Homo sapiens: one gene and its partners. The protein of the gene in region 4 interacts with the protein of the main gene of each other region in a pairwise test. Each region holds a gene or a part of one and is shown on either strand. Other genes may lie near its edges.

Region 1 (3,500 bases), about 110 Mb from region 4:
CAGATGGAGGTCCATTTATCCTTTTCCTACTTTGGGCCAGCACCAGCCCCTTATTTCACTGCAGATGCTGCTGTGCACATTTACGGGAGGGCAGATAAGAGGAGGCAGAAATGACCCTTCTAGGAAGAGAGTGGGTTTTCTTTTTCTTTTAAATTAAAATTAAAATTCAACTTTTTATTTTTATTTTTTTTGCATCTCGTTGGTGAAAAAGAAACCAAGTTTTCTACAGCAGCAAGGAAAGATGGGGGCCCTGGACCAAGGAGACATCTGAACCAGGCCCAATATGGACTCCTGCTCAGTTGCTCCAAGATGCTGGGGACACTCCATAGCCAGCTTCTCCAGATGGCCCCATGGTCTTGGGGCACTTTCAGATTCTCTTACTGAAGTCCATCTTAGCTTATGAAGGGGTAATATAGGTGTGAATCCTTAGAAACCATCCCGCTCTTCCTGAATCTGAGATTGTCAGTCCCCCTTTTACTCCCATGGATGTGGAATAACAATCTCCCTGTGGTCCCATGTCTCGGTCCCTCTGCACTCACCCCCTCCTGCCATCTCACTGTTGCCATCTGCAGGGCCTGCTCCAGCCCAGCTGTAGCAGGAAGGCTGGGGGAGGAGGACATGGACAAACCTGTCATTGTCATCCACACCAAGTGGACCCTAGCTCTGAGGTGAGCTGAGGTGCCACACTGAGAGCAGCTCCAAAGGTTCCCTACCCAGGCCTCTCAATGTCTCCAGCTCATGGGCCTGGAGTGGGGATGGGGCAACACATCAGAAACTTTGGAATCTAAGTGTGTGGGATGGGTAGGGGTGTGGTGTGTATGCGGGGGTCCCTCCCTACCCCATCTAAGAACTTTTATTCTTGCTCACTTCAGAAGATAACGCTAATTAATCCAGATTCTAATCCACCCAGTTCTTCAAGGAAAGACAAAGAAAATAGGCTCCTCGTAGAGTCTTTTTTTTTTTTTTTTTTTTTTTGAGACAGCGTTTGGCTCTGTTGCTGAGGCTGGAGTGCAGTGGTACAATCATAGCTCATTGCGACTTCAAACTCCTGGGCTCAAGTGATCACTCCTATCTCAGCCTCTCAAAGTGCTGGAATTATACGAGAATGCCACCATGCCTGACTATTTTTTTTTTTTTTGGTAGAGACAAGGTCTCACTTTGTTGCCCAGGCTGGTCTTGAACTCCTGGCTTCAAGCGATCCTCCTGCCTCAGCCTCCAAAAGTGCTGGGATTACAGGCATAAGCCACCATGCCCAGCCAGAGTTTTTTTTTTTTTGAGTTGGAGTCTCGCTCTGTCACCCAGGCTGGAGAGCAGTGGCACGATCTTGGCTCATTGCAGCCTCCACTTCTCGGGCTCAAATGATTCTCTTGCCTCAGCTTCCAAGTAGCTGGGACTACAGGTGCCTGCCACCATGCCCAGCTAATTTTTTGTATTTTTAGTAGAGACGGGGTTTCACTGTGTTGGCCAGACTGGTCTCAAACTCCTGACCTCAGGTGATCCGCCCGTCTTGACCTCCCAAAGTGCTAGGATTACAGGCATGAGCCACTGAGCTCGGCCCCCTCTCCGAGTTTTTAACCAACTGGTGAACCATGGCCATGGCGAAGGCCACAGGGGTTAGTGGTGTGGGCTCTAGGGTCAGATGACCAGGGACAAGTTACCTAATCCCTCTAAGCTACAAGTTCCCTACCTACAAAATGGAGATGATTATGGATCCTACCTCATGGGCCTACCGAAGAGCCCCCCAAATGCTTCCCCACTACCATTACTATTATCCAGAAAATAAGACAACTCTCTTCAGTTCACCTCTGGACCCTGGCTCTGCAACCCTTTGTAGGTATCAAACCAGAATGCAACAACTTCAAGAATGAGAACTGAGGCCACAGGAAAGGAATAGAAGAGGTGAAGAAAAATGTTACCCTAGTCTCTTTCTCCTCCTCCTACTGTCCCAGTCCCGGCCCTAGGGGGAGGAGCAGCCCCTAGCAGGAGGAACCCAAAGCTCCAGGCTGGCTTCCCAACCTCCATGTAGGAACAACCTTCAAGATAACAGTTTTGGGGAAAGGGGAGGCAGTGCAAGGCACTTTGGCATGACTTAAACAGCACTCTCATGAGCAACCAAAGGTGCAGGGTTCCCCTGAAGGGCTCAAGTCAAAGTTCTCCATGTGCACACACTATCAAGAACCAACCCCCTTCAGTCTCCCAGGACACAGGCATGGTGAGACCTACCAGCAGAACTCTATATCACTATGGTCTGTAGGGTTGGCTTGGCACAGGGAAGGTGATGCTAAGCTTCGTGTCCTTCTGGGAGATATCACAGTCAGGGAACACTGGGGGTCCCAAAAAGCAAAGGCCAGATCTCCTCCTGCCTTGGTATTAATATTTCTCTGAGTACCTAGGACAGAGGCCAGCATTCAGCAGGAATTTGATACACATTGCTGAATTACTTAGGTAAACCCAGCACCTTCAAAAAGTTTGGTGTGCCACACTGTGCCTAAAAAACTTTTATCTAAAAACAAAACTTTAACTCTTGGACCTGGAGGTTCTTCATAAGTCCTGACTCACAATAAATTAACATGGCACATCTCTGGCTCTTAGATTCCATGTCCCACCGACTCTCATCCTTCATTCTACCCAATGTCCTCAAAAAGAACCCTCTTTGCCCAGGGCAGGTTCAGAATGACAGGTGAGGAGCAAAGAGGAGAGACAGTTCTGCCCAGGCCTAGTTACATTTTGTCCCCATTTACAGCAGATAATTAGCACATTTGGGTCTTGTTACACCAAATCTCCAAATCATGCATCAGACAGCAAGTGCCCACCCCCACCCCCCAAGGGGATTATGCCAAGGTTACAGGAAGATAAGCAACACAAAATGCCTTCAAGAGCCTTCCTACTTAATTTGAGACCCTCTTGGCAGCTGAACAAATTCCTGCCCAGTAGGGGGATGGAGGAGAGGCTTGAAACTGAGCTTTCTACTATGGGTATCCTTGAAACCCCAAATGCAGGGGACAAAAGGCATAAAGAGGAGACCCTTGTAAATGTCTCCTACTGAGCTGGGCTCGGCAGGACTGCTTGGGAGAGATGGCAAGCAACGACCCTGTTCCATCTCTCCTCTCCCAAGCCTGAGCTCGGGAGCCAATTCTGTTTCTATTTAGCAATACTGCCCTGATCACCTCCCCAGGGCTACTCGGTTTCCTTGAGGCTTCTGTAGAAAGGAACTAGACCAAGAAGAAACCGAGGACATGATCCAAAGGAAAACAGTATTCTAGGAAGCAGCAGCCACTTCTGACAGGGAGGTAGAGAGGAAGTTCCAAGTTTCCCAGCAGGCAAAGGTGGCCCTGGGCTCACAGTCAAGAGCTGCCCTACTCAGGTCCTACCTGCACGATGTCCAACACCATGCCAGCAGCCACGGTCCCAAAGCCTGCCAGGAGGAATGGAAACAGTACTTGCAGCCCGATGGAAAAGGAGGTCTCCTTGAGCGGGGAAGGTGGCGCAGGGCCACGGTC
Region 2 (3,500 bases), on a different chromosome or scaffold from region 4:
CTCTCCCATCTCCTGCCTTTCACATGTTGTCTCAGAAAACTCTTCCCTTCCTCATGCCCTGCTCACCACCAAATACCAAATCATCCTTCAAGTTTTTTAGCTCAAATACTGAAATAGCTGAAAACCTGTCTCTGAAATCCCCATGTTCCCACAGCACTTGGACGAATCTCCATTTGAACAATCATCTCAGAGTATTCTTATTGCACATCTACCCGCTCCTACCTCCATATAGATTAAGCTGCTGGAGGACCTAGAAGACAAGGTTTTTTTTTTTTTTTTTGAGACAGAGTCTTGCTCTGTCGCCCAGGCTGGAGTACAGTGGTATGGTCTCAGCTTACTGCAACCTCCACCTCCTGGGTTCAAGCTAGATTCTAGTGCCTCAGCCTCCTGAGTAACTGGGATTACAGGAGTGTGTCTCGGCTAATTAGCCTGGCTAATTTTTGTATTTTTAGTAGAGACAGAGTCTCACCACGTTGGCCAGGCTGGTTTCAAACTCCTGACCTCAAGGGATCCGCCCACCTCACCCTCCCATAGTGCTGGGATTATAGGTGTGAGCCACCACGCCCAACCAAGACTGTCTTTGCATTGTAGTAAATCCTAGTGTCTAGCAGAGCATTCAGCCAAGTGGTACAGTATTTGTTGAAGGCATGAGTAAATAAGCAAAGGAGACGATAATATACAGCTGACTGTGATCAGGGCTGAGAAATCTAAGTGCAAATGGGAGCCAGGGAAGGAAGCAAATCATTCCTACTACAGGGCACTGGAGAAGCTTTCTGGAGGAGAGTTTGTCAGCTGGGCCCTGACAGTCCGCGTAGGCCTCCCTAGACTAGGTATATTTTGAAAGGCACAGGTGGGAATACAGGAAGTTTGTCTAAGAAATGGTCAAGTAGCTCATGCAGTAAGTGATGGATGCGAGAAGCTCCTACTGAGCTAAGGCTGAAAAGGTAAAATGGATTCAGATCTATGAGACTAGTGGTTCTCAACCCTGGCTACAATTAGAATGCTTTTTCTTAAAAAACAAACAAACAAACAAAAAAAGGCTGATACTTGGGTCCAGCCCTCAGTGGTTCAGATATAATTGCTTTGAGGTGTGATCATAACGTACAGCAAGATTGAGATCCACCGTATGATGTTATGAATAAAAAGCTGAGGCCTTCTGCTCTCGATCCCAACAGTCTAATCGCCATCCAGCGGCCAGGGAGACTTTTTCACATCAAATCCTATCATTCCCCTACTGAAACCTCTCAGCACTATGACTGAAAAACAGACTCCCTATCATGACCTATCATGATCTGGTCCCTGCCAATCTCTAAGACCTTATCTCAGGCCACTCACTCTTCATTAACTGTGGTAGGCTGAATACCTCCTCACCCCTCCCAAAAATGTTTAGGTTCTAATCTCTGGAACCTGTGAATATGTAAATTTACTTGGCAAAAAGAATTTCACAGATGAGATTAAGTTAAGGATCTTGAGGTCAAGAGATCATCCTGGATTACCCAGGCTGGTCAGATGACGTGATCACAATGGTCCTTACAAGGGAAACAAAGGAGGGTCAGTGAGAGAAGGTGATGAAACAAGCAAAGTAGAGATGAGAGACAGAGATTTGAAGAGGCTGTGCTCATGGCATTAAGATGGGGAAGGGATCCCAGGTGTTTAGAAGCTGCATCAGGCAAGGAAACTGATTCTCCAGAACCCCTACCCACACCTTGATGTTTAACCCCTTGAGCCTCATTCTGGACTTCTGACCACCAGAACTTTACAACAGTACATATGACTTCACTGCCGCAGTAGCAACAGGAAATTTATACAGTACCTAAGCTCCTGCCCAGACTGGCCATTTTTTTTTTTTGACACAGGGTCTGGCTCTCGCCCAGGCTGGAGTGCAGTGGAGCAATCAGGGGTCACTACTGCAGGTCCTACATCTCAGCCTCCTGAGTACTGCAAGCCACCATATCTAATATTTTAATTTCTTGCAGAAATAGGGTCTCGCTATGTTGCCCAGGCTAGTCTCAAACTCCCGGGCTCAAGCAATTCTCCTGCCTTAGCCTCCCAAAGTGCTACGATTAGAGGCATGAGCCACCATGCCCAGGCTGGCCTTCTTTTCAGTTCCTTAAACATGCCAAACTTGGGCCCCGTCAGGTTCTTTTGCACTTATGGTTCATATTACCTAGAACACTATTCTCTTACCCTGCTCTTTGAAAGACTCATTTCTTCTCATTTATTCAGTAAATACTGAGTGCCTACCAAGTGCCAGGTACTGCTGTAAGTGGTACAGATTTAAAAAAAAAAAAAAAAAAGACAAATAGCTCTGCACTCCTGGAGTTACATTTACTAAGATGGGGAAGACCACGGACACAAAAGATTTCGGGGCAAAATCAGCAGTTTGATTTTGGACATTTTAAGATGCTAAATGACATTTTAAGATGCTAAAACCAAAAAGCGTTGAAAGGGAGATCCATTGGAGTGTTTTAAGTGTAAGACTGCATGTTCTGACTCACCTGTTAGAAAGAGAATTCTGGCTACTGTAGTAAAAATCTGGAGGGGGAGGGGAGAAGAAGGAGGGACAAAAGCACAACGCTAGGAGACTGGTTAGGAAACTACTTTAATCACGAGGCCAAGAAGTAATGGCTTGGTCTAAGATGGATGCAGTGGAGGTGATGAAAAATAGATTCCAAGTACATTTTAAGGGAGAGCTGACAGGATTTGCTGATGGACTGACTGGGGAGGTGGAGGAAGGGTAAATAAAAGGAATCAAGGAAGATTCCAAAGTTTTTGTCCTGAACAACTAAAAAGATAAAGATGGCTAAGACAGACTCCTAGCATTCCAATAATTAGAGATCACAAAGATAAGAAGGAATAGGCTGTGGGGACTGAAAAAGAAGTACCAAGGAACATAAGGTGAGCCAGGAGGGGGTAGTGTCCTGGAAACCAAACAAAGTGCCTCCAGGAGGAGGATCCATCATCTGTGTCAAATGCTGCTCATAAGTAAGATGAAAACCAAAGAGAGACCACTGTATTTTTTTTCTTTTTTTTGAGACGGAGTCTCGCTCTGTCGCCAGGCTGGAGTGCAATGGCGTGATCTTGGCTCACTGCAACCTCCACCTCCCGGGTTCAAGCGACTCCCCTGCGTCAGCCTCAGCCTCCCGAGTAGCTGAGACCACAGGCACATGCCACCACCCCCAGGTAATTTTTGTATTTTTAGTAGAGACGGGGTTTCACCATGTTGGCCAGGATGGTCTCCATCTCTTGACCTCATGATCCACCCATCCTGGCCTCCCAAAGTGCTGGGATTACAGCCATGAGCCCTGCACCCAGCCATGACCACTGTATTTTTAACAGGTCATCAGGGAACTCAGTAAGAGCAGTTCCAGTATGGTTGGGAGAGGGGAAGAGAGACTGACTAGAATGAATACAAGAGAGACTGGAAGAATTAAAAGACAAGCATATATGATACAAGTCTTTAAAGGAAAAAGAATGGAGTGACCAGTGAAAGAGCATGT
Region 3 (3,500 bases), on a different chromosome or scaffold from region 4:
GCCCTACCCGCCCTGTTCCCATGAGCCCCTTCCACCCACCGGATCTGATATGTGAGGGTGGGGAGAGGCTTCCAGGTTTAGAAGTGGTGGGCAGGCTTGATCCGGTTAGGAAAGCCCCAAGGGAGGAAATGGGGAGATGGGCCAGAGCTGCTGCTTTACCTGAAATACAAAGAAGGGGGCTGTGGCTCTCTCCTTGAAAAGCTCCGAGAAGTCAGGCACCACCATCTCGGCCCTGCAAGAGACCAGGCCCCATCCTGTTCCCAGGGCAAGGCCTCTGGGGTATGGAGTCTCCACCCTGACCCCTCCAACCTGAGCATGGCAGGCCGCTCTCAAGAAACCAAGAGCCATATGTGGGCGTCGGGAGCCCTGGCGAGCTTCCAGATAGGAGGATCCATTTGGCAGTGGCTCTCCCTCATCCTGGCTGAGCCTGGGGTAGACATGCTGCCCGCCCACAGCCCTCGGCTCTGCATAAAACAGATGAAGCTCCTTAATCTGCAATATGCTCTTCCTGGCAGCCTGGGGCTGGTGTCAGACGAGAGCCCGTCATCTGGTCGAGTGACACAGCAAGTAGAGAAGGAACCTCTGATTGAAAGATGGAGGCCCTGAAGCTACAGACAGCAGAAGACACTGAGACCCAGCCCCACCAAAGCTGAGATTTTCTATGATTCCTGAATTAAAGCCCCAGAATGGGTCGAGTAGGGTGGTTCACGCCTGTAATCCCAAGCACTTTGGGAGGCCGAGGCAGGAGGAGTGCTTGAGCCCAGGAGTCAGAGACTAGCCTGGGCAACACAGCAAGACCTTCTATTTACAAAAAATTTAAAAATTAGCTGGGGGTGGTGGTGTGTGCCTGTGGTCCCAGCTATTTGGGAGGCTGAGGCAGGATGAATGCTTGAGCCCAGGAGTTCAAGGCTACAGTGAGCCATGATCACACCACTGCACTCCAGCCTGGGTAACAGAGTAAGACCCTGTCTCCAAAAAAAAAAAAAAAAAAAAAAAAGGCTCGAGAATGCAAGGACTTGGGCCTAAGGGTGTGTTCTGCAGTACTCTGTGCCATAGTCCAATCTGATCAGGGCACCAGTCATGTCAACGAGGGTCATTCTCGCTCTGCCCTTTAACTGCATGGACGTCTTATGTATGGGATGTGAGAAGAGGAAACCAAAGAGCAACCCCACTGCTATCAAACAATAAGCCCTTCCCTTGTATCTTGCTGGGTACCTTTGCGTTGAGTAAGAACAGCATGAAAGGGAACGTAGTTGCCACAGGCCATTAATGTGACTGGCCAACCTTGGGGTAGGGGAAGTTGCTAAATGTTTCTTATAAATCCTTGTATTAGATTGATAGTTGTAGTCAACATATTTGTAATCTCTGAACAGTGATTAAGTCAGGAAAGAGCTCCCTAGGTGTTCTGTGGGTTTCTGGGTTGAGGACCATCGTAACAAGGCCATGATGGGGTTTGGAGCCCAGTTCTCCGGCTCCCAGCCACGTGTCAGCATTTGCAGTTTTGGTGAAGATGAAGGGAGAGGGTGTGCACCGCACATTGGCCATTGTACTCAGTACAAAAGGGCAGACATGGTCACGGTCTTCCATCACCATTCTGAAGCGCTGAGATGCGTAGACTCGAAACAGTGAGGACTGAAATGTTTAGGTTGGGTGCAGTGACTCATGCCTGTAATCCCAGCACTTTGGGATGTTGATTTAGGAGGACTGCTTGAGGCCAGGAGTTTGAGACAAGCCTGGGCAACACGGCGAGACCCCATCTCTACACAAATAAACATTTTAAAAGAATTTAAAATAAAGCTGTTGCTGAGGAGGGGCCACAGGCTAGACTCCTGTGAAGAACCTTACACTCAAGGTCTCACACCCCAGGGCACGGGCTTCCAGCTGCAGACCCTCTGGGGTTCCTGCCAGCAGGCAAGTTCAGGGGAGACTGGACTTAGAGCATGTTGCTCAAGCGGCATCACAGTCACCTGGGACATTTGGCTAAAAGGGCAGATTTGGCCGGGTGCAGTGGCTCACGCCTGTAATCCCAGCACTTTGGGAGGCCAACATGGGAGGATCACCTGAGGTCAGGAGTTCAAGACCAGCCTGGCCAACATGGTGAAACCCCCATCTCTACTAAAAATACAAAAATTAGCCAGGCGTGGTGGGGGGAGCCTGTATTCCCAGCTGCTTGGCAGGTTGAGGCAGGAGAATCACTTGAACCGGGGAGGCGGAGGTTGGGGTGAGCTGAGATCGCGTCACTGCACTCCAGCCTGGGTGACAGAGCGAGACTCAGTCTCAAAAATAAAAAATAAAATAAAAATAAAATAATAGTAAATAAATAAATAAAAGGGCAGATGCCTCTGTCCCGCTTCCTAGGCACCCTGAATCAGGAGGGGAGCAGGACAGAAAGGCAAAGGTGCTACAGGCAAATCAAGGACTCACTTGTTGCTCCCAAATTTCTTCTCAGCTGCTCGGATCTCTGAGTCTTCCTGGAAGCCTCTGTTGCTCTGATAGTATGAGAAGGCGTTTCCCACAGGAAAGGCCACGGGGAGAAACTGCTTCTTCTCCAGGGCATCGTAGGAATACTTGATCTTCTGGAATTCGAAGGACAGCACCTCAAGCCCGTCTTCGCCCTGCGGTAGAAGGTGTGTTTGCCACAGAGGCCCCTGACCTTGGGGTGTCAGCGCCTGGGAATCCTACTCAAGCCCCTCCTCCAGGAGCCCAGCAGGCAGTCCCTACCTCATTGCGGTGCAGGGCCACGAGCTCCGTGGAGCCATTGTTGGGGGTTGGCACCACCTTCACAAAGGTCGCTTTGCTGGGGTCGTACTCCTGACAGAGACAAAGAAAGCATTGTGGCTTAGCTCTTCTCAACCTACAGTTCCAAGACCCCCCCGGGAGGTTTTGGGTGCAGCAGCTCTATGGGTATATTCTGAAATGCCACTGGGCTCTGGTGCTGCCTCTGTCACTCCCTCGTCTGTCATCAGGACAAACGAGACCATCTTGCTGTGCCTCTGGTGCCACACTTAAAGCTGGGAGCACAAGGCTGGGCACGGTGACTCACACCCATAATCCCAGCACTTTGGGAGGCCAAGGTGGGCGGATCACTTGAGATCAGGAGTTTGAGATCAGCCTCGCCAATGTGGCGAAACCCTGTCTCAACTAAAAATACACAAATGAGCCGGACACGGTGGTGCACACCTGTAATACCAGCTACTTAGGAGGCTGAGGCAGGAGAATCCCTTGAACTGGGAGGCGGAGGTTGCAGTGAACTGAGATTGCAACACTGCACTCCAGCCTGGGTGGCAGAGTGAGATCCTATCTCAATTAAAAAAAAAAAAACAAAAAACCAGCCAGGCACAGTGGCTCGCACCTGTAATCCCAGCACTTTGGGAGGCCGAGGTGGGCAGATCACGACGTCAGGAGATTGAGACCATCCTGGCTAACACGGTGAAACCCCATCTCTACTAAAAACACAAAAAATTAGCTGGGCGTGGTGGCAGGCATCTGTAGTCCCAGCT
Region 4 (3,500 bases):
CAGACTTTTTCAGAATTCCAAGACCAAGGTTAATAGAGGATTCTTCCAACAGATCTCAGGCAGTAAAGCATATTAAATTATATATCTAAAATTTCTACATATACATATGTAAACTAGCAACTTTATATTCCTTGTATGTTTGTTAGGTTTCTCTAGAATCAATTGTTTTTCAACATAAATATACCAACAAGCTCAAGGTAGATATTGCAACTGCAATTTTTTTCATAAAGATGGTTGCTTTTTTGATATGTCTATGTTCTGTTGTTATAGTTTAAAATTTGTCTTTTAAAGTGAATCTATTCATAGGGAAACAAAATAGGAAAAGTTAGATGAAATGATGAATGTTAACAGATGCTATAAGGATCCTATGTTATTTACCAATCTTACAGTAGTTACTCATTGACTATAAGAAGGTTTTTTTCTATGCAGTGAATTCCCAGGTCATTTTGTGCATTTTGTTATTCCAAGTAAAGCTAACAAAAATAATAATAATTATAATTTTGGGGGGGTAAATGATCATGAAATTCTTATCACTTATGCAATAATGAGAACTTGTATTTGGAAAGCACTTTGACTTAATACTTATGTAACCATTTAAGCTGTTTGCAGTAAGCTTTTTTTCTTAAATGATTTTGTTATTAGAACCAAAGTAAAACTTAAAGTGATGAATAGAAGCAAGTTCCCTGCAGTTTTAAAATGTATCCTTACTGAAGAAATAGTTGAAAAGTAAGATTCTTTGGAATTTAAGGTATTATAGGTTATATAATGTCTTGATTGCTATTTTTGTATCTTTCTACTATATTTACTGACGTTTTGAAATTCTCTGGCAAAGTAATTTAGAGCTTAATGAATCCTCTTCTGTCTATATAGAGAGGTACAAATCCTACAGCCTTTTTTCCTGATACTCATCTTTCACCCCTGGAGCAGGATACTAATTATCAAATAAACCTGACAAGCTGATCTCTTATTCTAAGAGAAATGAACACATTTATGCTTTAATCCTCAATTTTTAAGGACAAACTACCATCCTTTGTACACCCTTTCTGACTACATTGATAGCCTTCACTTTTTGTGTATGTGTTCCTTGTGAATCACTTCTTTCTCCAATTAAACCATGCCTTTAGATAATGAGTTAGAATATATTTGGAAAACATTTAAACTTGAAAATCATTCAATATGCATCAATTTCCAAGCCCACCATATTATTATTATTTATTTTCTTTTTTTTTTGAGATGGAGTCTTGCTCTGTCACCAGGCTGGAGTGCAGTGGTGTGATCCTGGCTGGGCAGAAGGGATAATGGGGAATTACTGTTTAATGGTACAGAGTTTCCATTTGGGAATATGGAAAGTTCTGGAGATGGATGGTGGTGATGGTTGTATAACAAAATGAATGTACTTAATGCCACTGAATTGTACACTTAAAAGTTGTCAAAAGGGTAAATTTTATGTCATATATATTTTGCCATAATAAAAATGTTAAAGCAAGCTTATGAGATAACTGAAACAAAGTTAGGAAGGAGAACTAATAACATATTGGACAATGTTATTACATTTTTAGAAAGGCTTCATCCTAACTATAAACTGAAACAAATGGGTGGAACTTAATAGTGATAAATGTTAAGTTTTGCATTTAGGTTCAACGATGCATAAGGATAAAGAATGACCTGGAGGTGGTAGATGATTGCATCTCAGTTATGCCAATTTATCACATCTGCTAAAACAGAAAGCTTTTTCAAATTTAGATTCTATTAGAGGAGGCCTGGTATCCAATTCACACGTAGTTTGCCCAGTCAGACCACATCCAAGACCATCATCATCTGAAGTCCCTAAACTTGCATGTATCTGGAAGAGAGCTGCTAGTTAACTGTAGAGAGGAGATATTAGATTAGGTAGCTATTGTCTTATAACAAACAATTGAAGGACCTGGAGATGTCAGCCTAGAAAAGCTAAGAACTATAAGGACATGATGGCCTTGAAATGTCCCTGGAAATGTGAAAGGACTACTAAGTGGAAGGGGGAGTAGACTTATTCTGGATTGATTCTGATGTTGGGACTAGGACCAATGGGGTGGTAAAGAGAGGTAGGGGAGACTTCTATTTTATGGAAGAAAGACATCCTCAGTGATTGGAAGATTATCACAATGGAAAGGCCTTTTAAAGTGGCTATTCTACCATAAGATAGCTTTAGTCAGATAGATATAAAAGTAGATACAATCAGCAGAAGCTTTAGGTAGGAGCTTGCACTAAATAATCTTTAAGGTTCTATTCTAATTCTGAGATTCTGTGATGCACCTGTTTTGTTGAAATGATTTGATTTAGTTCTGATGCAAGAGAACTAGACAATGGGGGAATTAACAATAAGCTAAGTTATGTCACCAAGTTCTTAAGTAACCCTAGGAGGAAGAGGTGAAAGCAGCTGGCCTGCCAATCCATTCACTTCCTTGGGGGACAGGAGGGGAGAAAAAGAAGGCACGTGGCCCAGTCTAATCTCCTTGTCAACAGGACTTAGGATAAATTGAGTACTGATGTTTGTTAGGAAGAAGAAACATTAACTCTGAAATGCCCTTAGCAGTGTGTCCCTGGGTAAGGATTACCTATAGTAAAGAGAACCCAGTATCTATAAGGCACAGCTCATTGGAGAAGGTCATGTAGGCACACAGCAAGGAAATAAATAACTGGGTTGCCAGTGGCCCTTGATGTCCCAGACCTCTCTCTGCTTCATTTGAATTATTTGATGGTCTCTATCTTTGTAACATTTAGTAGAGCTTAATGCTAGGTAGGAACACTGTTTCACATGAGTCTGATTTGGCAGTCCAGTCCTGTGTGTTAGCTCAAACCTTCATCTCTGTCTTATAAGCAAATAATCAAAAACCTTGAATGATTACAATTAAGCAAATAATTATTAAACATAGTAATAGATTTTGTTTCCAAACCTCAATTCTAGGTTGATGGTACCCTGAAACGGTTTCCATTAATAGGTAATAGACTGACCCAGAGTCTCAAGCACAATTGAAATGTGCTTGAGACTCTGGGTCAGTCTATTACCTGTTAAAAAATGCCCCATCATTGCCACTATAGAACACGGTCACGTTTTTACACAGGATTCCAATTTGGGATGCCCAGAACTTATTTCCTACCAACATATAGTCGTAGTGTAGTGTAGTGCAGTGCAGTGCAGTGTAGTGTAGTATAGTAGGGAAAGGGTGCCCATTTCTGTCCAGGCCTTTGGTGGTAGAACAGTCAGTATTTAGTACCATACTAGCAGTAGTAGGTGCATAATTTAGTTCTCTTTTCCCCCCCACCTTATAAACCTCTGGTCTTAGCCACTCTTAGCTGGTAGAAAAATTTCCCATAGTAAGAAAATCCAGACTTCCATAATCGCTTGCTAAAAGGAGAATTTTCTTTTAAGCTGCGGAAGGGATCAGAAAAATCCTGTTTTGTTTCCCCTCACAGTCATGCAGAGGCCATGGCAAATGTAGATTTTACTCTATGCAAAGCTC
Region 5 (3,500 bases), on a different chromosome or scaffold from region 4:
TGGTATGAAAGCATAAGGCTCTGACTAAGCACTACTAAGTTACCTTTTGCCTAGAACTGCAAACGTTTTCATTATCTACAAGGAACCTATTCCAATTGTGGCAATTAGGTGCCTGAAATCTACTCAGGTAAACAGACTAATGAACCGGCTATTAAGAAAACATAGCAAGAGGGCTGGATTAATTTATCATGTATCACTACAGGACCTTGAACCTTGCCTAACATACAAAGCTCTTTACTTTGGACCTAAATTACCTGGATTTCATTTAAACATGATTTTATTGGGTGTTGTGCTTGGAAAGGAGAGTGTGCAGTGTCCAAAAGATTTTAAAAATTCAGCAATGGTATTCAGAACGGTATTAGCACCTGAGATTATTTCATAAGTTAGTTCATGGTCTTTCCCTAAGTAGTATCTACATTATGCATTGGAATGGGTTTAAACATAATTGTCTCATATCCTAGGACCAGAATATGGGTTGATCAAATTGTTCATGATATTTGTGCATTCTTTCTTTAACAATTTATTATCAAATGAGATCTCTACTTACCCAGAGAACCTAGAGTATTAGCCCAAAGTGCCCCTTGCCTAGTCACCATATTCAAAATCCTATCAGGGCAGAAAGAGAAAGAATCTGTATTTAGAATCATTATTTCTCTAGTAACCTTTAAAAACAATAATGGCTATTTAACATGTCTAGACCCAGGGCGCAAAGTTTTTTAAATTCTAAAATACATCTTAATATCTCCGATTTCAATAAGGATGGTTTTTACTCTACATAAGTGAAAATTAGGTTAAAACTTTCAAAACTTTAGGCAAAAGTCTTAAGGACTTTTATATAAGTCCTTAATAATAATAATAAGGAAAACTCTTATTATTAAATGTATAATATAATGAATACACATTAAATATATATAAGGCTTTGAATGACAGCCTGGAATGTATCTTACAGAGGTTTACAGAAACTAATCTATGTAAAAAATGCCACTGTTAACTATGGCGAGCTAGCTTCTAAAAGGTTCTTTTTGGGAGGGGAACATATGCTTAGAATGTTAAAGATAATCAAAGTAAAGAATATCAAAGTACAGAATATAAAGTAAAGAATATCAAAGTACAGAATATAAAGTAGAATTAAAGAGAAGGAATCAGCCATCTAACTAGAATACATGGGGAAAGCACCCTGTGTCTGCTCCTAGACTAGAACCAAGCAGCCAAGGTGAATGCTCAGCACACTCTCAAGGAAGCACAGTTCTGCCTTGCACCAGTGCCAGACACCACCAGAACAGTGATGGACGCAACTGGATGAAGAGAAGACATTCTTCTCCCAGCAGTGTAACATGATCCCAGGAATGGTTCTGTCCAGACAGCTGACTACTGCTGGAAATTATGGAAATACAGTAACAAAGAGTGAAGGAACTCATTCAGTTTAATTATTAAACGACTCAATTAATGTTCTACAGAAACAAAAATTTGTATTTTCTAAAAGATTGTTTTAAAAAATCAGTAATGTTTACAAACAGAAGTATATTGTTTCTAATTATGTTACATATTTACTAACATATTTTAAGTTCAGCCATCATTTTTTCATTTTTAACAAGCATTTTAATAACTTGTTTTAAGAAAGGAAGCAAGTTGTCTTTTCTAGGAGATCTACTTCCAAATTTGTATTTAATATGATATTGGGGTTTTTGTCTCAAAATAAGATGGGAGAGGAGAAGGAAATGGGATAGAACTGGCCATGGTTGATGGTTGTTGAGGATGCGTTATGGTTCATGTGTTCACTATGCTATGTATTTTGTCTACTTTTATATATTCAAAATTCCCCATAATACAAAAACTTAAAAATATTATTGAAGCGAGGGACAAGTAATAAAAATATTGAAGGATCTAGGCTGGTAAAGCATGGACAGAGATCCACACAGTAACAGGAATATAAAAAACTTAACAGGGCTAGGCGCAGTGGCTCACATCTGTAATCCCAGCAGTTTGGAAGGCTGAGGCAAGAGGATCACCTGAGCTCAGGAGTTTGAGAACAGCCTGAGCAATACAGTGAGACCCCGTCTCTACAAAAAATTAAAAAATTAACTGGGCATGGTGGCATGTGCCTGTAGTCCCAGCTACTCGGGAGGCTGAGGTGGGAGGATCACTTGAGCCCAGGAGGTCAAGGCTACAGTGAGCTGTGATGGCGCCATTGCACTCCAGCTCAGGCAACACAGCAAGGCCCTGTCTCTCAAAAAACCACACAATTTAACAGGCCTTCCAGTTTCCCATGGTCTAATTCTAGCACATCTGGTGCCATCTGCTGGCTGAACAATATGAAAGGAAGATGGAGTTTAAAGTGTCCTAAAACAAAACAGTAGCCATCGAAGAATACATACTCATGATTCCACTTACATGAAGCATAAAAATGGGCAAAACTAAACATATTGTTTAAGGAATATCAAGAGGGACTGGCCATGTTTACTTCTTAAGTTGGGTGAAAACATACTTTCCGATCCTTTTAACTGTACTTTCCCTTCTCTGTAACTTCAAGTTCTAACAGAAAACTGTGTCTTATCCTTTTGGAATTAACTCTAATTCTAAAAATTTTATTTAAAATGTATCTGGCTCATCATTTCGGAAACATAAAGTCAAGACAGTAAGAACTTCAAGTTAAATGATGGCAGCTTGAGCCATCACTCTCATGAGCTGCTTATTCTTCATTACCATTTCCTATGGATCTGCATGCCCCCAAACAATCCAAAATTCCCATTAGCAACTCAACAATTTGAAAAGCAAGTCACATAGGGTTGGAGAATGTAACAGGTGCAGCTGAGAAGTCAGGCTGGCATAGCACTAGCTGACTGAGGGACACTGATTAAAAAAATCACTCCTTTTTAAAAGCTTAGAGTCAGTAATCTGATTCCTTAGTTGCTTTTATTTTGATTAAGATTAAAAAACAAAGACAAAAAAGCACATAACTATGCTAACCATCTGTAATCTCAAGGTTGTACTCATCAAACCAATACAACAGAGCTTAATATTCAAGTATCACTACATCAGATGGTTACAAGAGACTTACTGTACATTTCTTGGTTTGGACCAGGCCATGTTCTGGGTTTCCTTCAATCCTAGCCGAAGACCATTCATTGCACCAAACGCAGCCCCTGGTAAATCATAACAATTCACCCAGATAAAGACAGCTTTATATTAAAAAAACAAACTCAAATCTGCATAACTACACTTCTGATTCTTTTTCATTTTTATTTAATAGAAAAAGACAAATGTAAATATTAAAAAAAAAACCCTGAAACCAACATTCTAATTGCTTTTGATTTTACGCACCCTCAACTACTTGAACTGAGCACTCTTGAGAAAAAAGTATGTAACACTCACCTGTCATGCAACATCCTCCAATCGTAAAGAAGGCCAGCTCAAATCTGCCCCGGGTTTTATTAGCTCCGGTAGGTAAAATAAACTCATCTGTATCCTAAAAGGATAATAATGAAAACCAAGCTGAGTGT
Region 6 (3,500 bases), on a different chromosome or scaffold from region 4:
TGTAACCCTGGGAGTGCCAACCTGGCTATACACTAGTGCACACACAACTTATACATTGCCACAGACTGTTGTCACAGAGAGCTACAACTGATTCTCATGTCCCATTATGACAGTAGTGAATGTTTGAGGGCTTCCTCTGTGCCAGACACTGCTGTGGGGACTTTACTGCTGTAAATTCACTCAAGCCTTATAAGTCTAAGATATAGGTACCATTATTATCCCTATTTTACAGATAGGGAAACTGAGGTACAGAGAGATGAAGGCATTTGCCCAAGATCACCCAGCTAGTAAGTGGCAGTGCTGGAACTCTGGTTCCCTGTGTTAACCATGACCTATAGCACCCTCCCCTACAATGAGAAGGGTCCCTTGGAGGAACAACGGGGGGAGGCAGAGGCTGCCCCAGGCTGCCCGACCCTCACCTGGATGTTGAGCAGGAACGCAGTCTTGGCCTCTTCTATCACCCTCTGCCTGACTGCGGGAGTCATCTCCAGGGAGTTCATGCGGGAGCGGTAGAGCTGCTTGAACTTGGTGGCACTGGCAATGTTGGGGAAGGTGAAGAAGGCCAGGCCCTCGCCAGAGCTGGGCAGGTCCAGGGCTTTCTGGGCAATCTTTTTGAGCACCTGGCCCCCAGACAGGTCACCCAGGTAGCGGGTGTAGGCGTGGGCCACCAGCAGCTCGGGCTCTGTGCGCCCCACCTCGTGGAGCCGCTTCACATAGCGCTGCATGGCTGGTGTGTAGGGGATGACCTCCTGCCAGCGGGGCCCGTACCAGAAGGCCAGGTCCTGCTCCAGGGCAGCCTTGCGGTGCAGCTCTTCTGGGAAGTAGACAGGGGCGAAGACTGGGCTCTCCTTGTTGCGCTCAATCTCCTCCTCCAGGGCCACATAGATGTGGTACAGGGAGGCCATCACCAGCTGAAAGCAGAGTGAGCAGGTCAGGCCGCCAGCCACATAGAAGACCCCCACCTCTGTCCGTCCCGTCCACTACTGCCTTTGGAAAGGCCCTCCTCACTTCGCAGCTGGGCTCTGACTCCTTCTGCCACCCCTCGCTACAATCCTCTTCACACAGCAGCCAGAGGGGTTTTTACAAGAGGAAAAGACGATCATGCACTTTCTCAGCCTAAAAACCTTTTACCCCACTGGGCAAAACAAGCAGCCTAATTGAATCCTTATATAAAGATCTAACAAACTGGCCCAGTGTGGTGGCTCAAACCCCTGTAATCCCTGCACTTTGGGAGGCTAAGGCTGGAGGATTGCTTAAAGCCAGGAGTCTGAGACCAGCCTGGGCAACATAGCCCAAAACCCACCTCTACAAAAAATTATTTTAAAAAACTAGCTGGCTGGGGCCAGGTGCGGTGGCTCACGCCTGTAATCCCAGCACTTTGGGAGGCCGAGGCGGGAGGATCACAAGGTCAGGACATCAAGACCATCCTGGCTAACAAGGTGAAACCCCGTCTCTATTAAAAATACAAAAAAATTAGCCGGGCGTGGTGGCGGGCGCCTGTAGTTCCAGCTACTCAGGAGGCTGAGGCAGGAGAATGGCGTGAACCCGGGAGGTGGAGCTTGCAGTGAGCTGAGATCTCGCCACTGCACTCCAGCCTGGGCAACACAGCGAAATTCTGTCTCAAAAAAATAAATAAAAATAAATAAATAAATAAATAAACTAGCCAGCTGGACGCGGTGGCTCACGCCTGTAATCCCAGCACTTTGGGAGGCTGAGGCAGGCGGATCACGAGATCAGGAGTTCGAGACCAGCCTGGCCAAGAGACCAGCCTGGGCAATATGGTGAAACCCTATCTCTACTAAAAACACAAAAATTGGCCAGGCATGGTGGCAGGCACCTATAATCCCAGCTACTCGGGAGGCTGAGTCAGGAGAATTGCTTGAACCCAGGAGGCAGTGGTTGCAGTGAGCCGAGATCACGCCATTGCGCTCCAGCCTGGGCGACAGAGCAAGACTTTGACTCAGAAAAAAAAAAAAAAAAAAAAAAGCCAGGTATGGCTGTGGGGGTGCATGCCTATAGTCCCAGCTACTCCAGAGGCGGAGGCAGGGGTATCACTTGAGCCCAGGATTTCAAGGTTGCAGTGAGCTGTGATCATATCACTGTACTCCAGCTTGGGGAACAGAGTGAGCAAGACCCTGTCTCAGAAAAAAAAAAAAAAAAAATCCAACAAAGGAATTGCTATTCCCATTTTACAGAAAAGGAAACTAAGGCTCAGAGAGGGTATGAGACATGGAGGTTGCACAGCTAGTAAGAAATGAAACTAGATTGAAGACCGGGCATTGCCAGGGACCCACCATGGCTCAGGAGAGGGGAACAGCTGAAATGAAAGTGCTTAAAGGAGATTGGCCATGTGCTTCTGGCTTTTGACCTCTGCGTAACCAACTACAGGGCACAATTCTCCTTCCTGGAGGCCTATTCTGAACCCCACCACCTCTGCATGCTGGGCTGAGGCAACAGGTCTTGAGTGTACCTTGGCTTGGGGCACTAACTCCCGTTACACATTAATACGCCCGTTTAAATTTGAAGGAGAACAAAGTTAAGACATTTAGGTTGGAGTTTCTGAGTTATTTCTGAGCCACAAACATTCAAAGCAGCTCTATTCCTTGAGGGGACAGAAAGCCAGGCAGTCTGGTACAAAAGAGCCTGGGTTTTTGAGTGTGACGGACCTGGTTCTTACCCAACTCTGCCAGTCCTTAACTGTGTGACCATGGGTGAGCCACTTGCTTTCTCTGGTCCCAGCTTCCTATCCTATCCTAGAGCAGATGATCTGAGGTCCGTGTGACTGTGCTAGCCAACTGTGCTAGTCAGTTCCCTCACCTGCCACATACTAGATGGGGCTGGTGTGAGGATTAAGTGAGAGGATCTGGGCCAGCACAGAGGGCAGCCTGGCACTTAGCGCTCACATGAGAAGGGCTGTGATAAGTGCCACGTCCACCAGCTTAATGTAAGTGAGCACTGGATTCTCTCATGGATCTTGGCGCCTCCTTAGAACCCTGTGACTTAGAGGCAAAATCCAAAGTCTAAGCTGGCTGGGGATGGGATATTCCAGCATTCACCTCCCTGCACCCACTGTCTCCAGTCACACTGCAGCAACTGGGTGTACCTCATCTTTTTAAGGGAGAGGGGAGGAGGATGAGGAAGACCCATTACAGGCCCAAGGACCCCACCCAGCCTGGAACCACAGATTAAATCTCTCCTCATTAAAGCATGTCTCGGCCGGGTGGTGGCTCACACCTCTAATCCCAGCACTTTGGGAGACCAAGACGGGTGGATCATCTGAGGTCAGGAGTTCGAGACCAGCCTGGCCAACATGGTAAAACCCTGTCTCTACTAAAAAAATACAAAAATTGGCCAGGTGTGGTGGTGGGCACCTGTAGTCCCAGCTACTTGGGAGGCTGAGGCAGGAGAATCGCTTGAACTTAGGATGCGGAGGTTTCAGGGCACCGAGATCTTGCCATTGCACTCCAGCCCGGACAACAGAGTGAGACTCTGTCTCAGAT
Region 7 (3,500 bases), on a different chromosome or scaffold from region 4:
TTTGCATGCAGGGTTGGTATATTTTGTAAAAACTTAAATTCATCTTAAGAAATGCAAATGCTAAGGTTCACCCTCAGAATCTGATTAAGGAGGTCTGATTATATATGAAATACATACTAGAAAGTATGTATACTTTCTTTTTTTTTTTTTTTGAGACACAGTCTCACTCTGTTGCCCAGGCTGGAGTGCAGTGGCACAATCTCAGCTCACTGCAACCTCTGCCTCCCGGGTTCAAGTGATCCTCCTGCCTCAGCCTCCCGAGTAGCTGGGATTACAGGCGCCCGCCACCATGCCCAAATAATTTTTGTATTTCTAGTAGAAATGAGGTTTCACCATGTTGGCCAGGTGAACTCCTGACCTCAAGTGATCCGCTCACCTTAGCCTCCCAAAGTACTGGGATTACAGGCATGAGCCACCGCGCCCAGCTGAAAGTATATATACTTTCTAGTTTGTGATATATTCTAAAGTATATCTAAAGGTTGGTATTTTGGCATTTTGAGGTCCCAGAACTGAAAACATAAATAGTTTTTTTTTTCATATGAATGTAGGTCCTATGAATCACTTTTATTACCGCAGTGTGGTGCATAATCAAACAAGGAGGACTTAGTTGTCTTAAAAAATTATTTTTGCTTTCATGTTCAGATTGGTATCCAGTTGAAAGTATTTTTCAACTTCAAAAATGGGAAGTCTGGGCAACAAATGAGATATTTGTGGGTTGTAATACAGTATAAAATTGTGATTCCATCTTTTAATCTTACAAATAACAATTGTTCTATAGATATGTGAGTCTTTTTAAAAAAAAATTTTTAGCATCACTTCTCAAAAATGTGAGCATACCACATTTTGTTTTTATTTTTCTTTTGCTCTATGATAAATTTCCACATTGAAAGACAACTCTTAAGAAATAGGAGCTCATAGTTTCTCTGTGTGATGGAATATAAGTTAAATCCTGTTTTTATCTTTCTGTCTTAAGTTTTTAATTTTATTTGGGGGAAATAAGACTGTTAGGAATTAAGTGTTAGCATCACTAACAATCTAGGGTTAAAGCTATAGCTAGAAACAGCCCAGTTTTTAACTGGAAACTAGTGGTAGAAAAGTTCTTTGCTATTACTTGCCAGTTTCCAAAAACTGTCTTGATACATGCATAAAAACAGCATATTTTAGAAACTCTTATAACCGGTGATTATCATTTATCTGTAGGTTATCCTTGAGAACTCAGCCTGAAAGATAGATAACCAGAGAGATTGGTTATAAGGAAATTATATAGAAAATAAGTGGTAATTTTCTGCTCAGTAATTCAATCATACAGCTATCTTTTGAATGCCCATTTACAAGTAGATTTTCTGCTAGACACAGTTACATTAAAAAAAAAAAACCCACAACCTCGTCATCAGATAATGCTTACCTAAATAAGAGAAATGAATAGAAGAACCTAGTTTTGTTGTCATGCTAATATGAAATATGGAAACACAGAAGAAATAAAAAAGCAATAAAGTTTTGTCTAAGACAGTATTCTAATTATGAAATAAATGTACAGAAACTGTTCATAACTGTTTGCATGTCTACTAATTTAGTGTAATACTCCTATTAGGAAACAGCAGTATTAACCCTGTCTATGAAAACATTAGGAAATTGAGATTTGAAAGAGTTTAGCCAAGATTACCCCAGATGTTGGGATGGACCTAGATGAGGCCTGTGGTTCTTGGCAGTCGAGGTGAGGTCAGTGCAGCTATGTTTTGTCAATTAGTCACCTCATGACTTGAAAACTGTAGGGCAGCAGTCCCCAAACTTTTCGGGACCAGGGACCACAGTCGGGGGGATGTATGTATACTTTCTAGTTTGTGATATATTCTAAAGGGGAGAAGGTTTGGGGATGACTCAAGTGCATTATATTTATTGTGCACTTTATTTCTATTATTATTGCATTGTAATATACAATGAAATAATTATACAACTCACCATAATGTAGAATCAGTGGGAGCCCTGAGCTTGTTTTCCTGCAAGTAGACAGTCCCATCTAGGAGTGGTGGGAGACAGTGACAGATCAGGCATTAAATTCTCAAAAGGAGCACACAACCTAGATCCCTCACATGCGCAGTTCACAATAGGGTTCGTGCTCCTATGAGAATCTAATGCCACCACTGATCTGACAGGAGGTGGAGCTCAGGTGGTAATGCTAACGATGGGGACTGACTGTAGAGATGAAGCTTCACTTGTTTGCCTGCTGCTCACTCCTGCTGTGTGGCCTGATTCCTAACAGGCCAGAGACTGGTACTGGTCTGTGGCCTTGGGGTTGGGCAAACCTACTGTAGGGGGCTGGAGTTGAGCTGATACTACTAGGCCTTTCCATAGTATAATTGGAGCAACCAGAAAGACACAGTCTTTTATTTATTTATTTATTATTATTTTTTTAATTTGAATCCGTAGATAAATTTCAGCAACTTTTCTGAAAGTTTGCAAGAAGCCAGGATTGAGAATGAAGGGACATTTTGGAGCCCTTGTGGTGGTACAGTTCTTTTTATATCTAGATCTTGACCTAGATCTACATATGGCCGTTATAGAGAGTGTTGCTTATTGCCTTGGTGTTTCTGGACAGTAAATGGAACATCAAGAGTTCTCTGTGTCCATGGAAGGGTGGACAGGATTCCCTTGTAACCTTATCCATTGTTGTAATTCATTTGTGATTGTCCTAGCAGCACCTGAAGGACTTTGCATTTTACAAAGATGTTTAGAGAAAATTGGAAGAGGAGAATCAATGATGAAGATGAAAGAAATGTGGAGATTGGGGGTAAAGGAAGAAGCTGATAGGCAGAGATTTTAAAAATGGTCATGCCTTGATCCTTGCAAGTCTTTGGTTCAGAAATGAGCTTCAGTTGGAGAGCAGGACACTGTTGTATGAGGTTGAAGACAGAGTCTAGGTTGGAAGGGGACAGGTAGGTAGGTCTGGTTGGATTAATGGAATTGGGGGCTCAGGGGACAAATGAGTTAAGATTGGCATTTGGGAGCCTTGCCAAGAGATAGAAAACATTTGCCAGAAATTTAAGCATACTGTCTTTTTTATAGTCAGAAAATTCAGTCACTCGTAAGTTGGGACTGTTCACTTGTCTGAATGTTTTAGATTTAAAGAAAAAATATAGCTCTTTGATAAACAACGTGGTGTGGAGCTGTGGTAAGCCTGCTCTTGCTCCTGACTCACCGCCGCTCGCTCTCACCAAAAAACAGGTTGGTCAGGAGATACAGAAAAACGCCCATGAAGCCAGAGGTGGCAATTCACTGAATTAGAATCACTCTAGGCCCAGCGCGGTGGCTCACACCTATACTCCCAGCACTTTGGGAGGCTGAGGCAGGCGGATCACCTGAGGTCAGGAGTTTGAGGCCAGCCTGGCCAACATGGTGAAACCCTGTCTCTACTAAAAATACAAAAATTAGCTGAGTATGTTGGCACGTGCCTGAAATCCCAGCTACTCGGGAGGCTGAGGCACAAGAATCACTTGGACCCA

Evidence for each region.
Region 1: the proteins of TLCD4 (region 4) and SLC41A1 interact in binary tests that used the Homo sapiens proteins (3 or more experiments, as listed by UniProt).
Region 2: the proteins of TLCD4 (region 4) and TVP23B interact in binary tests that used the Homo sapiens proteins (3 or more experiments, as listed by UniProt).
Region 3: the proteins of TLCD4 (region 4) and ATP13A1 interact in binary tests that used the Homo sapiens proteins (3 or more experiments, as listed by UniProt).
Region 5: the proteins of TLCD4 (region 4) and TIMM23 interact in binary tests that used the Homo sapiens proteins (3 or more experiments, as listed by UniProt).
Region 6: the proteins of TLCD4 (region 4) and HMOX1 interact in binary tests that used the Homo sapiens proteins (3 or more experiments, as listed by UniProt).
Region 7: the proteins of TLCD4 (region 4) and LNPEP interact in binary tests that used the Homo sapiens proteins (3 or more experiments, as listed by UniProt).

The regions. Positions count from the first base shown.
Region 1 is NC_000001.11:205,806,699-205,810,198, forward strand, and holds part of SLC41A1 (solute carrier family 41 member 1), read right to left. Parts: coding exon 3,372-3,500; intron 1-3,371. UniProt on the Homo sapiens protein: Na(+)/Mg(2+) ion exchanger that acts as a predominant Mg(2+) efflux system at the plasma membrane.
Region 2 is NC_000017.11:18,784,183-18,787,682, reverse strand, and holds part of TVP23B (Golgi apparatus membrane protein TVP23 homolog B), read right to left. Parts: intron 1-3,500.
Region 3 is NC_000019.10:19,657,177-19,660,676, forward strand, and holds part of ATP13A1 (endoplasmic reticulum transmembrane helix translocase), read right to left. Parts: intron 2,812-3,500; coding exon 2,722-2,811; intron 2,616-2,721; coding exon 2,425-2,615; intron 233-2,424; coding exon 160-232; intron 1-159. UniProt on the Homo sapiens protein: Endoplasmic reticulum translocase required to remove mitochondrial transmembrane proteins mistargeted to the endoplasmic reticulum.
Region 4 is NC_000001.11:95,151,855-95,155,354, forward strand, and holds part of TLCD4 (TLC domain-containing protein 4), read left to right. Parts: intron 1-3,500.
Region 5 is NC_000010.11:45,982,489-45,985,988, reverse strand, and holds part of TIMM23 (mitochondrial import inner membrane translocase subunit Tim23), read right to left. Parts: intron 3,467-3,500; coding exon 3,373-3,466; intron 3,144-3,372; coding exon 3,059-3,143; intron 1,382-3,058; exon of another isoform or gene 1,178-1,381; intron 607-1,177; coding exon 548-606; intron 1-547. UniProt on the Homo sapiens protein: Essential component of the TIM23 complex, a complex that mediates the translocation of transit peptide-containing proteins across the mitochondrial inner membrane.
Region 6 is NC_000022.11:35,384,096-35,387,595, reverse strand, and holds part of HMOX1 (heme oxygenase 1), read right to left. Parts: intron 912-3,500; coding exon 420-911; intron 1-419.
Region 7 is NC_000005.10:96,939,080-96,942,579, forward strand, and holds part of LNPEP (leucyl-cystinyl aminopeptidase), read left to right. Parts: intron 1-3,500. UniProt on the Homo sapiens protein: Release of an N-terminal amino acid, cleaves before cysteine, leucine as well as other amino acids. Degrades peptide hormones such as oxytocin, vasopressin and angiotensin III, and plays a role in maintaining homeostasis during pregnancy.